Homo sapiens: one gene and its partner. The protein of the gene in region 2 purifies or fractionates together with the protein of the main gene of each other region. This does not show direct contact. Each region holds a gene or a part of one and is shown on either strand. Other genes may lie near its edges.

Evidence for each region. The genes of interacting proteins can lie anywhere in the genome.
Region 1: the proteins of LSM12 (region 2) and DCP1B purify together in Homo sapiens (affinity purification with mass spectrometry; 2 studies listed by BioGRID and IntAct, with this or other methods). This does not show direct contact.

The regions. Positions count from the first base shown.
Region 1 is NC_000012.12:1,959,431-1,966,457, forward strand, and holds part of DCP1B (mRNA-decapping enzyme 1B), read right to left. Parts: intron 6,264-7,027; coding exon 6,128-6,263; intron 1-6,127. UniProt on the Homo sapiens protein: May play a role in the degradation of mRNAs, both in normal mRNA turnover and in nonsense-mediated mRNA decay. May remove the 7-methyl guanine cap structure from mRNA molecules, yielding a 5'-phosphorylated mRNA fragment and 7m-GDP.
Region 2 is NC_000017.11:44,063,645-44,070,945, forward strand, and holds the start of LSM12 (protein LSM12), read right to left. Parts: upstream 3,028-7,301; 5' UTR 2,944-3,027; coding exon 2,820-2,943; intron 291-2,819; coding exon 157-290; intron 1-156. UniProt on the Homo sapiens protein: Nicotinic acid adenine dinucleotide phosphate (NAADP) binding protein. Confers NAADP sensitivity to the two pore channel complex (TPCs) by acting as TPC accessory protein necessary for NAADP-evoked Ca(2+) release.

The DNA.
Region 1 (7,027 bases), on a different chromosome or scaffold from region 2:
CTGAGTGGACATTTTTCAAAAGAAGACATACATGTGGCCAATAGGTATGTGAAAAATGCTCGACATCGCTAATCATCAGGGAAATGCAAATTAAAACCACAGTGAAATATCACCTCAAACCTGGTAGAATGTCTACCATCAAAAAGGCAAAACATAAGTGGTGGCAAGGATGTACAGAAAAGGAAATCCTTGTATACTGTTGGTGGGAATATTAGTTAGCATAGCTATTATGGAAAATAGCATGTTGGGCCAGGTGCAGTGGCTCACGCCTGTAATCCCAGCACTTTGTGAGGCTGAGGCGGGCGGATCACGAGGTCAGCAGATCGAGACCATCCTGGCTAACACGGTGAAACCCCGTCTCTACTAAAAATACAAAAAAATTATCCGGGCATGGTGGAGGGCGCCTGTAGTCCCAGCTACTTGGGAGGCTGAGGTAGGAGAATGGCGTGAACCCAGGAGGTAGAGCTTGCCATGAGCCAAGATTGCTCCACTGCACTCCAGCTTGGGTGACAGAGCAAGACTCCGTCTCAAAAAAAAAAAAAAAAATTTATGTTGGCTCCTCAAAAAATTAGAAATAGAACTACCACATGATCGAAGAATCCCATTTCTGGGTATATATCCAGGGAAAATGAAATCAGTATGTTGAAGAGATAGCTGCATTCCTGTGTTCACCACAACATTACAATAGCCAATATATGGAATAAACCTAAGTGTTCATCAATGAATGAATGGATAAAGAAAATGTGGTGTATAAACACAATGGAATACTATTCAGCCTCAAAAAAGAAGGAAATTCTGTCATTTGCAACAACATGGATGAACCTGGAGGACATTACATTAGGTGAAATAAACCAGGCACAGAAAGGCAAGTACTGCATGATTTCACTCCTACATGAAATCCAGAGAAGCTGAACCCACTGAAGCACAGTAGGCTGGTAGTTGCCGGAGGCTGGGGGTAGGAGGATTTTGGAGATGTTGGTCAAAGGATACAAACTTTCAATTAGACAGGAGGAATAAGTTCAGGAGATTTATTGTACATCATGATGACTACAGTTAGTACTAATATATTGTATACTGAAAGTTGCTAAAAGAGTAGATTTTAATTATTTTTGCCACACAAAAATGATAAATATGTGAGGTAATACATGTGTTAATTAGCTTGATTTAGGCACCCTATAATATACATGCATATCAAAATATCATGTTGTATACCATACATAAATATATACAATTTTAATTTTTCATTGAAAATAATTTTAAAAAGAAAACTTCAATAAAAGTAAGTCTAGCACTGAAAACCATCTCAGAAGTCTTTTAGTTTAATACTTATCCAACACAAGCCAAATTCTTTTATCACATCACCAATATGTAACTGTTCAATCTCTTCTTGAACACTTTAAGTAACGGAGACTCACTTCCCAACAAGAACTCTGAAGGAACATTCTGTTTTCCTTCTCTCTCGCTACCTTTCCATTTCACCCCCTTTCTTCTGTCTCAGAACCACTTTACTCAGGGTCTCCACATTTTCTGAAATATCTGTGTGTGAGTGCAGAGACAACACAATGTAAGAAGGCGATGGAATGCTCTTTCCAAACATAAGGCACTGGCAGCTAGCAGGGTGCATGCACACCTAGTTAGGCCGGCCAAAAATAAGGTGATGGAAAAAGAACATCTGAAACAGGCCCTGAAAGCTGGATCATATTTTGATGGGTGAAGAAGGGGTGGGAACAGTATGAGAAAAGTCATGAAAGCACTCTCAGGAAGCAAAATGAGTATTCTGTTTGGCAGGAGTTTCAAATATTTGTAGAGGGTAGTAGGGTTAGAAGAACAAACTGAGGCCGTCTTAGGGAAGGCTTGAAGACTCCAAGGGTTCCTGTACTGGGCAATGACAAACCAAGAAAAACGGAGACTAGGAAAGTAGCGTGATCATGCAGGTGTCCTGGCACACTGTATCACAACATCTGGCTGTTAATGGAAGAAGAAATAATTTCCTCTATTATTTATCTCACAGTTGGAGCAACTGACATTACGCATAAAACAACATGTATTTGATTTTTACAGAAAAGCACCTTCTATACACGAATTAAGTGTCTGCACTTCATGTCAACATTATAACAAATCTGTGAGGGCATAAAGATGAACAGAACATTGTTTTAACTTCAACCAGTTTACAGTGTACTGGGAGAAGTTGACTTAATGTAATAAATGAGGAAGAACAAAATAAGTTTTAAATAGTAATAGACTGAGTTCACATGGAAGAATAATTAATTTGACTGAAGAGACCTGGGAAAACTCCACGTAAAAAGTGTCATTTTTACTAAGCCTTAAAGGATATGTAAATTCTGAAGGGTAAATAAAGTAAGGGGAAAAATATTCCAAGACATAGGCACAGTATAAAGTGATGGCCTAAATTAAATCTCCAGAACCGTATATGAGTGTTTCTGAGAGAGACAGAGAATGTGTGTGCTTGTGCTGTTCTTTTATGTGATGGTCACTCAAGTGAGGCCAGAGAGGAGACACAGGAGAGTCTCAGGAAAACAAAGTTTATTATACTCACAGGTCCTGGAGACAAGAGGCATGCCACGCTGCACAGGGCCACGTGTGGAAGCCTCAGGGTGTCAGCAGCAAGGGGAAGGCGTAGGCTAGAGCATTTACTGAATTTCCTCAAGGAAGGCAAGGCAGGGCATGGTAAACAGGTTAAGATTGGCCAGTTTGAATAACTCCAGCAGGCTCTAAACTGTATGAGTGGTCCCCAGTTGCTGGGTACCTGGCCCTGGGATGATTAAGGCAGAGGAATATTGTACAGGCCAGAGACGAGGAGATACGTATGGCTCAGGATTGGTTAGTGTGCATATTAAAGGCGTGCTCCTGGCCAAGCCCTTTGCTATCTCTGAACACTGGCTGGTCACAGGAGGGGCAGTCTCCCCAGCCAGAAAGGATTTTAAGATGTCAAAACATTATAACATATAGAAGATAAAAAACAGAAACAATACAAGGTATGTGTGTGTTGAGAGGAGGGAGGGAAAGAAAGGAAAATAATTTTTTTCAATATTTGTATTTATTTACCATTGTTACACTGTCTTCACAGAACATTAAGTTCCTGGAGGGCAGAAATGTCACCTTTTGAAGATTAATCTTTAGTGTGCATAATATAGTATAATTAATAAAGTATAACTAATTATTCAACTAGTTGCCAAGTCATCATAATTTTTTTTAATGACTTTTGAAGAATTAAAAAAACACAAAATGAATACAGAATAGTTACTGTCTGAAGCTGAGATTAAGGCATCTCTGTCCAGGCCATACAATAGAAGGATAATTAAACTGTGGCTCATTCACATTCATATTCCTTCCTTCACTCAATAGCCATTATTTAACACTCACCATGTGCTAAGTACTTTGAAGACAATAAGGGATATAAAAGTGAATAAAGGATGTTCTTCGTACTCAAGAAGCTCACAGTCAAGGCAAAGCATGTTAAAGAAACTTGTCTAACTGCCTATATGTGCCACTTCATTCAGGATTTTTCTGATTGCTTCCTCATAGCATCATTTAATTTGTTTTTCTACCTTGTCTCCCCTCACTCCCCACCCACTTTCACTTTCTGTAAACTAAAAAGTTAGAGCTCAAGGCTTAATGAGATTCAGGATCAACTCTTTGGGCAAGAATATTTCAAGATGGTGCTGTACATTTGACATCTTATCACATTAGGAAGCCAGAGAATCTGGTTATCTAACTTTTAATGATGATAATCAGCGGGGTTCAGGAGGAGGCAGCCTGATCCTTCCACTGTCAAGTTTCTATCAACCTTTCCCATAACATTAATATTACTGATGATCACTGCCTGAGTCAATTATTTTAAGCAGAGTGTCTTTAAGTTCTATTATTCTCTCCACACGTACTAGCTGGAATTCTCTGGTAGAGAACAGCTCTCCCTCATTGACCAGGGCTGTTTGATTACTCTGAGATATAGTCCCTTTAGGGCAGGCAGGATAAAAGCTTATTTCATTCCCATTAATTATCAATTTTCAGAGGAAGGAGTTGGTGCCTTAGCACCTTCAAACGGATAACTAATAATTATTTTGCTTGGTTTTATATGTTTGGTTTGCTTGTTCTCTTTCTCATTACCAGGAACTCATAGATTTTTATACATTCAATGTGGTTTAATCCATTGTAGTCACTCCTGTTGATGTTAGAATGTGGTGCTCTGGTCAGTGTCCTTGAAGCTGATTTCTGTGTCCTTTCACATGACCCTATTGGTTTTACTATTCCAGACCTGGAATCAGAAATTTCTTTGAAGAGCCCTGACACCTTCTGGAAGGAAGTAATATTTCGAAACAACAATCTGGGTGATATAGATGCTTACTGCTACTGAGTTAGTCACTTTTATTTTTATGTCCTTTCAGGGCAAGAGTGAGAAACTCTATTTTTTGTTTTTATACCTAAGAAACAAAACATGAACTAATTCTGATATTTCCACTTAATCTTATGTAGTTTTAACTTATTAGATTTGATTTTTTTCCCCTTACACTAAGGTTTTGGTTCCAACCACGTTTATCTAATTTCATATTTATTATATCCACAACAGTAGAAAAATTACAATGCCAACAGTAGAAAAATTAAAATGCCAACATTACTACAAACAATAAAACCAATGAATGAAGTTTATAATGTCTTGCAGTTCTTTTTGTCCTTAAAATATAACCCACTAAGAGTGTTCAGTTCAAGCAGCGGGCTTTGAAGTCACTCTAATTTTTTTTCTAAGTAATTATGTGACAATATGATATTCAATTACATACATTTATTTCAGCTAGTTTCCAAATTCTATAATTTTTAAAAATTTTTATTTTTTGCCCATTTTTCTAGTGTTAATCTTGTACTTCTTAATTTTTAGGAGCTCTTCATAAAATAACCTTCCTGTCATTCTGGTGTCAACAATTTTTTTCTGAGTTGTTTTTGTATCTTTCTATTTGCTTGTGTTGTATTTAAACCTTGTAAAATGTTTTTTATTTTTATGTAGTTTAATTAATTGCTTTTGGGTTTTTAGGCATAATTGAAAGATTTCTCTTTTCCTAGATTATAAAGAAATCCATACAAATTTTCTTCTGGTACTTGAATCATTATATTTTTACATTTAAATTTCTAATACATTTGGAATTTATCCTGGTGTATGCTGTAAGGTACAGACTCAGTTTTGTATTTTTCCAAATGGCTACCAGTTGCCCCAACACCATTTATTTAGGAATTCACTCAAATAGCTGACTTGAGATTATCATCTTTATCATATCCTAGATTTCATATACAATTGGATTTAATCCTAGACTTAGAATCTTAAATCTGTCCCATTGGTCTATTGGGCTGTTAGGTATCAATACCATCAACACCATACTGTTTGAAATGTTGACTTCAATGTTTTAAAATCAGGGAGAGCTCGCTCCATCCCCCCACTCATCTCCCCCACCTCCAACCCCTACTAATATCACACTTCTTTGCCAGGATTTTCCCAGCTATTCTTTCTTGCATATTTCTTTCCATGAGCCTTACACTCAACTTGTCTAGATCAGAGAGTAAGGGAGAAGTGGGGAGGGGAGGGGAAAAGAAACCAGTGGTATTTATTTAGTGGTCACCTTAAATGTAGAGATTTTTTTTCTAAGAGCTTTATGTTGAATCTTCTTATCCAACAACAGGGTGTATATTTCCATTTGTTTGAGTCTATTTTTATGCCTTTCAGGAGTTTTTAAACATTTTCTTTATATAGGTTTTGCCCATTTCTCGTGAATTTTATTGCAAACAATTTTATATTCATTTGTTGCTACTGTAAGTTGGGGTCTTGCAGTAAGTCTAACAAGACTTACTACCAGTTGTGTATATGAAGGTTATTGTATACATGAAGGCTATTGTATATATGAAGGCTACTGATTTCTCAGGCTATTTTTTAACCCACTTAAAGGCAAACAGTTTTCTTCAGCTTATAAAAAATCTATATTACAAATAAAGATTTTTTATTTGTAATATAATTTTGTTTGGTGGAAGGAACAGCATCCACAGTACCTAGTCTTGCTAAACAAGAATATTCCCACTGCGGAACTGAAGTGTGTATGTATCACAAGGAAGGGCAAACACTCACCTTTGTGTATTCGTCTTTGGCCTTGATGAGCATTCGTAAAATGTCTACTTCTTTGCCCTCTCCTGAATTGAGGATCACTGGGGAAATTCCTGCTCCAGTTCCCTGATGGGCTTTCAACTGTTCATACTGAGTTAGGCTAGAAAAACAGAGGGGAAAATCCACACAAGAAAAGCCAATTCAACACAAACAATGTTTAAAACCATCCCAATTCTCACCTAGTTGTTTTCATCCTGTTACAACCATATTAGAAATAAGCTTGCTTAGGAATTTAAAGGAGAAAAATGAGAGTTGAGGTCCTGAATTCACTGACTACACAAATGAATCTAGGATAGGGGTCAGCAAATCTGTGGGCCAAGTCCAGCCCACCACCTGTTTTTTGTAAAGAAAGTCACAAACACAGCCAAGCTCAACACAGCCATGCTCCTTTGTTTACATGTTGTTTATGGCTGCTTTCACATTACAAGGGCAGAATTCTATAGTCGGAACACAAATCCTATGGACTGCAAAGCCTAAAATACTCACTCTCTGGTCCCTTTGAGAAGAGTTTGCCAACTCCTCACACAGTGCATTCTAAAGGATGCTCTCATTAGTTGCTAAGGAAACCCAATTTAGAGTTCTGAAATACTGAGGAAAGAACCCCCTACTTTACAGACTGCCTTGAAGTCAAGGCAAGGTTGATTCTGGCAACTCAAATCCTGCAGCTCTCTGGCAGTTTCAAAACATGGTAAAGATTCCATTCTAACTCGGAGAAGAGGGGCCATTTAAAAAACCACTTAGAGCAACGAGGAGTTCTTCTGTTGCCTGGAAAACAATACAAAGATAGACCAGATTGCTCCTATATGCTGCTAGGTGATGTCGAGGAAAATATACTTTCCCTTTATGTGCTGTAACTTTCAGCTC
Region 2 (7,301 bases):
GAAAAACTAAACCTACATTTTTTAAAAAGATATCAGAACAAACAATTTTAAGTCAATTTTAAAAAATAAAAAATAGACAACAATGTATCACTAAGACTCAATGAGACTCATCTTTCCCACCATTTTAGAGAGCCAGATCTGCCCTTGAGTCCTTACCTTACTAACATTGAGTGAAGCTAGGGGAGGAGGGGTTTCTGTTCGGTCATTAATTATTTCCACTTCTGAAACATACTGTAAGTTTATGAGCAAGATGTCTGCATGGTTGGGCTTTCCACTGGAAGAGGGACATTCTGGTGAGAAAAAAAAAAGTTAAGGAAAAATAGGACAAGCAGAGGCACTGACACATCCCAAAAGGGGCATAGAAAACACGATTCACACAAGGCTTGTAAAAGGCAGGCCAGGAGCATGAGGGCCTTATAAGAATCACGGTTCTCCTCAGGAAATCTCTGCCTGTCACCTTCCTCCTGCCCAAATCCTTGGAAGCTTCCAAAGGAGTTCTGTCACTTTCTCTCTACTGGCTTTATGGAGAGGCATAATGCAGATTTAATGCGTTTGTCTTGAACCTATGAGCCAGACAAAAGAGCTAGACCTTTCTGTTCTTCGTATAATACTCTCTGTGTCTGCACAGTATTCTTTTTACTCTTTCAGATGTGAGCTTTCCCATTTTGCAGAGGAGAAAACTACACACTGGAAAGGAAATTCACCCAAGGTGACCCAGCCAGTTAATCCATTCATTCATTCACAAACTCATTCTCCAACCATTTAAGAGCCTACTGTATGTCAAGTAAAAGTTGAGTAATTCAGCCAGGCTCACGTGATGGCTCACGCCTGTAATCTCAACACTTTGGGAGGCTGAGGCGGGCAGATTACTTGAGGTCAGGAGTTCAAGACCAGCCTGGCCAAAGTGGCAAAACCCCGTCACTACCAAAAAAAAAAAAATTAGCCGGGTGTGGTGGCACATGCCTGTAATCCCAGCTACTCTGGAGCCTGAGGCAGGAGAATCACTTGAACACGGGAGGCGGAGGTTGCAGTGAGCCGAGATGGTGCCACTGCACTCCAGCCTAGGTGACAGAGCGAGACTCCGTCTCAAAAAAAAAAAAAAAAAAGTAATTCCTAGTTACAAGACCCTTCCAACTAAACCACTAATGTAAAAGGTCTTATTTCTTCCAGGTGTAACCTCTTATTTTTTTAAAAAAGCAACTATTCTTAGGCCGCGCGGTGGCTCACGCTGGTAATCCCAGCACTCTGGGAGGCCGAGGCGGGTGGATCACGAGGTCAGGAGATCGAGACCATCTTGGCTAACACGGTGAAACCCCGTCTCTACTAAAAATACAAAAAATTAGCCGGGCACGGTGGCGTATGCCTGCAATCCCAGCTACTCGGGAGGCTGAGGCAGAAGAATCGCTTGAATCCGGGAGACGGAAGTTGCAGTAAGCCGAAATCACGCCATTGCACTCCAGCCTGGGCAATAAGAGTGAAACTCCGTCTCAAAAAACACAACAAAAAAAAAAGCCGGGCGGTGGCTCAGGCCTGTAATCCCAGCACTTTGGGAGGCTGAAGCCAGCGGATCACGAGGTCAGAAGTTCGAGACCATCCTGGCCAACATGGTGATACCCCATCTCTGTTAAAAAAAAACATATACAAAAATTAGCTGGGCGTGGTGGCGCGTGCCCGTAATCCCAGCTACTCCGGAGGCTGAGGCAGGAGAATCGCTCGAACCAGGGAGTCGGAGGTTGCAGTGAGCCGAGATTGCGCCACCGCACTCCATCCTAGCGACAGAGCGAGACTCCATCTTAAAAAAAAAAAAAAAAAAAAGATGCCATAAAAAATTACTCCTCCAAAAAAAAATTCCAATAAACCCACCTGTGGCTCACATAAAAAGGGAAGCCGTGGCACATTTATCCCAACAAGGAAGTGTTTCATTTCCAAGACTGAGTTTCCTGGAGTAATTCAGAAGTCACTTCCACCCCAAAGAAGCAGGCCACCTTTTCCAATCAGTTTAACATTGCTACTTTCAAAAGGGAGGCTGCTACTACGTAAAAGGACTCCATGTGCTGGACTGATCAAGGCAGCATGAGAACTTCACTCTTTCACCTGTAACTCACACATCCCCAAACCACATAAGCCCCTGGCAAGCCCTCTCTGGAACAGGTTTCCAGTGCAAACATCCCCTAAACAGCAACTTCCAAATGACCGAGAAGCCTAAAAATCAGCACAGCCCCCCCACCACACATACACACGCATCAGCGAAACAAGCCACTATCCCTAGCTCAGATACAAACTCTGCCCTGAACTTACTCTCCCCCAAAACAGGCAAGGACCAATTTGGTCACCATCCCACCGCCCTTCCTTGGACGAAATCCCATCAGTGCACATGCCCTCCTAAATTCCATACCTTTGCCCTACCAGCAGTTCCTTACCCTAAACACCCCTCCCCATAATATTTCACCCGCCCCTCCTTTCCATCCGGGCTCCAATCCATCAGCCCCCTCCCACCACCACCCCCTCTCCTAATTACTGTGTCCCCTCTCATAACGTTCCCCCCAAAAAGCCATCCCCGTGTCAAGCCCTCCTCCACCCACTGATCCTCGGTAAAGCCCCAGCTCCCGCAAAGAGAGAGAGACAGGATCCCCAAAGCTGACCGAAGGGCCCGCGGGAGGGGGAGGGGAGCTCAGGGCCGTGCGCATGCGCCCCGGGCGCCGCGGTAGCCGGTCGCCCCTAGGCCCGGAGAGAGCCCCAGCCGCCGCCGTCGTCCCCCACCCCCCGACCACCGCACCTACACGCCGGCCCGGACTCGGGCTTCACGCAGGGAAGGATACTTAAAGCCAGCATTTTGGATTGGTAGTCAAAGGCTACCACCTCGCCCTGCAGCCGCTGCTCCTGGCACGTCCGGCACGACACCTGGCTCCCAACGCTGAAGTACTCGCCCGGAGGAGCCGCCATCTTGGGAGTGCAGCCGCGGCCGGCGGCGGCGGCGGCAGCAGCGGGCGAAAGCCGGGCCCCCAGTGAGCGCCGCGACGCGACGGCGCGCACGGAGCGTGCTTGCGTCACACGCCGGGGCGTGGCCTGGCGCTGGTTGGGGCGGGATCCTAGGTGGAGTGGGAAAGAAGAGGAAATAAAGGGGAATCTGAAAAGTATTTGTATAGCTGCGTCCGCTCGGTTAAGTGCTTGTAGAGTCCATTTTAGAAGTTAAGGATAAATGACCTACGTGGAATGAAAAGGGGAAAGAGGAGGGAGCTGCAGTCTCCATTATATGCACACCTTCCACACAAGAGTTTAATGAATGAATTTTATAAAATATGTTAACCCCATTTTGCATATGAGGAATCAGAGCCTCAGAGGACTTAACGATACTTGGACAAGATGATTATAAGGCTGGGAGCGGTGGCTCACGCCTGTAATCCCAGCACTTTGGGAGGCCGAGGCGGGTGGATCACCTGAGGTCAGGGGTTCGAGACCAGCCTGGCCAACATGGTGAAACCCCGTCTCTACTAAAAATACAAAAATTAGCCGGGTACGGTGGCGCGTGCCTGTAATCCCAGCTACTAGGGGGACTGAGGCTGGAGGATCTCTTGAACCTGGAAGGCGGAGGTTGCACTGAGCCAAGATTGTGCCACTGCACTCTAGCCTGGGCAACAGAGCGAGACTCTGTCTCAAAACAAACAAACAAACAAAAAAAGATGATTATAACTACTGAGTGATAGTGGAAAGAACATTGGCTGTGGAGTTAGATAAGCTGGAACCAGAATCCGAGGTCAGCCTCTTACTAAATCACCTGACCTTGAGCAAGCAAATTACCTGATCCTGTTTCTTCATAGGCATTTGTATTGTCACTTCTTGAGCATCTAACAGCCCTTTGAGGTAGGAATCAATGTCCTCCTTTTACATAAACTAAGTTTTAGACTAAACTTGTCCACGGTTCCACAACTAGCAAAAACAGTCTGCCTATTTCCAAGGACGGTGCTATTTACTGCTATACTCTGTTACATAATAATACCTACCTCATAGTTAGGAGGTTTAAATGCGGTAACGGGTATAAGTGCATGGCATGTACTAGGTCTTTAATAAATGGTAGTTCCCCCTTAGTCACCCATCACTCTTAGAAGTCAAGACACTTCCCCTTCTCCCTTTTTGCCCTCTCTCCCAGAAAGCCAGGCAAAAGGCAGGAATGAGGAGCAGCGGATAGTGACAAAAAGGGGCTTGGAGGAGGGGTTTTGCGCCCCTGCCCTTGAATGTCCGTCTGATGTACAAAACAGTCGTTTTCTTAATCTTATGCAAAGGACTATGAGCGTGCATTTTCAAGCCCTACTACCACCAATGGCTGTCGCTAACCCACCCACCGCTCACTATAGAAATTTTGGATCCTCGCTTCATGTATAAGAAACAGGTTGACCTTTCTCTAGTCCAGAGGGAAGCAAAGGGCCAGTCTTGGCGCGGCTTAACCTGAACAAAGTTCAAAAGTATTTCCTTGCCCTCCAAGAAACATAAACTTCCTGGTGTTGGAAGTATTGATACACTCATTATAATAGGAATAAAAATTCTGCTCCTTCATAGTGTGCTTTTTCAGAGAACTTTTTTTTTTTTTTTTTTGAGATAGAGCCTCGCTCTGTCACCCAGACTGGAGTGCAGTGGCGCCATCTTGGCTCACTGCAACCCGCACCTCCCAGGTTCAAGCGATTCTCCTGCCTCAGCTTCCGGAGTAGCTGGAATTACAGGCACGAGCCACCATGCCCGGCTAATTTTTGTACTTTTAGTACAGATGGGGTTTCACCATGTTGGCCAGGCTGGTCTCAAACTCCTGGGCTCAAGCAATCTTCCCGCCTCGGCTGGCCTCTCAAAGTGCTGGGATTACGGGCGTGAGCCATGTGGCCGGCCTCAGAGAACTTTCATGCCTCTCATCCTTGTTCTGGCCCCCATAATAAATCATACATAATTGCCATTCCAGTTTTCCACTTTTTATATGGAATCGTGATTATAGGTTTTCATATAAGACTTCTAGGAGCCATTAGGAAAGGCCTTCTTGGAGGAAGTGAAAAATCTCTACTGAGACCTGAAGGATTGGCAAGGAAAAAGAGTGGCCATGTTCCAGGCAGAGGGAACTGCACGGGCCAGGACCCCTAAGAGGAGAGAACTTGGTGATTTCAAGGAATGTATAGGTCAGAAATATTACAAAGCGGAGTGTGGGAGTAGGCTGCTTAAGGTTGAGGGCAAACCTCAAAGACTCGGTAAACAATGTAGGCTTTCTCTTCGGCAATTAAAAACTTCCTGGTATTGTCCGGGCACAGTGGCTCACGCCTGTAATCCCAGCACTTTGGGAGACCGAGGCGGGCGGATCACGAGGTCATGAGATCAAGACCATCCTGGCTAACATGGTGAAACCCCGTCTCTACTAAAAATACTAAAAATTAGCCAGGTGTGGTGGTGGGTGCCTGTAGTGCCAGCTACTTGGGAGGCTGAGGCAGGAGAATGGCGTGAACCCAGGAGGCAGAGGTTGCAGTGAGCTGAGATCGCGCCACTGCACTCCATCCTGGGGGACAGAGCGAGACTCCGTCTCAAAAAAAAAAAAACTTCCTGGTGTTGGAGGTATTGGTATAATCATTGTAATAGGAATAAAAATTCTGTTCACTACAAAGGCAATAAACGAAGATTTATATCCAGCTTCCCTCCTTTACACCTTTTTTTTTTTTTGGAGACGGAATTTCTGTCTTGTTGCCCAAGCTGGAATGCAATGGCACAATCTTGGCTCACCACAGCCTCCACGTCCTGGGCTCAAGCGATTCACCTCTCTCAGCCTCCTGAGTAGCTGGGATTACAGGCATGTGCCACCACACCCAGCTAATTTTGTGTTTTTAGTAGAGACACGGTTTGGTTTCTCCACGTTGGTCAGACTAGTCTCCAACTCCTGACCTCAGGTGATCCACCCACCCTGGCCTTCCAAAGTGCTGGGATTACAGGGGTGAGCCACTGTGCCCAGCACCTTTTTTATTTTTTATTTTTTTTTATTTTTTGAGATAGAGTCTCGCCCTGTCGCCCAGGCTGGAGTGCAGTGGTCCCATCTCGGCTCACCGCAACCTCCGCCTCCCGGGTTCAAGCGATTCTCCTGCTTCAGCCTCCCTAGTAGCTGAGACTACAGGCGCGTGCCCCCACGCCCAGCTAATTTTTGTATTTTTAGTAGAGATGGGGTTTAACTATGTTGGCCAGGCTGGTCTGGAACTCCTGACCTTGTGATCCGACCGCCTCGGCCTCCCAAAGTGCTGGGATTACAGGTGTGAGTCGCCGCGCCCGGCAAAAAAAAAAAAAAAAAAAAAACTTTTCAAGAACAAAGTTGATTGAGGTAGGAAGAAACTAAGGAGACACTGTTCAACAGTATTCTAGGCAGGACCTCGCCTAGAATAGCTGAGATTTCTATTTTCTATGTGAGTTCCCCCAGATGACTGTTTCAAACTCTGTCGCGGGTGTGTGCCAATCCTCTTCCCATACCAACACTGTTACTATCTCTTGGTTTCATCTGCCTAAGCAGGGTTTTGGATGGCAGGAGGATGGGGGTGGGGGAAGCAAGGGAAGAACTGGAAGGAAGTGTGACTTTGCGCTATATGTGAGAATTCGCCTTTTTAGGGAAGACCCCTCAAAATCAAGAGACTTATCTGTCAGCCTCCAGATTAATAGCAGGCGAATTAGAAAGGGGGAGTCTTGAGGCTGGGGAGGAAGGAGTGAACTGATTAGGGGTGTATGCAAATTTAGGATCCCGCTTCAGCTCCCAGGAGGAGGGGCTGTCTGCAGCCTTTTCTCCAAAGGATCTCAGATTTATTTATTTTTTTGCTGTTTGTTTTTTTTTTTTTTTTTTTGGTGGGTATTGGTGCTGGAGAAGAGAGGTCCGGTGGGGAAAGAATCCCGGCCCTGGAGATTATATATCCGCCTTCGCATCAGCGGAGCAGGGACGCTGGGAGCGCGCGCGGCCCGCCGGCTAGTCAGTCCCCTGACCCGGAACCGCACTGGTGCCGCCGCTAGCCGGCTGCCCACGTGCCTGCAACAGTGGCCACGTGGGGCCCTGAGGAAACGCCTTTACAAAGGTTTGTCCCCTGCGCTGCCCAGTAGGGAGGAAAACCGGAGGAGAGCGCAGGAGGAAACAGTACCGGCTGGAGGCCGGTCTTGCAGGAGCGGGGGACTGCTGGGGGCGGGGCTTGGTGGTGACCGCTGGCGGGGCGGGGCCTGGGGCTCAGAGGGGTGGGCTTTGGAGATCAGAGGGTCGACGCTGCTTCGTTGCCTGGACTCTGGTTTCCGCCCTGGAGCAAGCCGGGGCC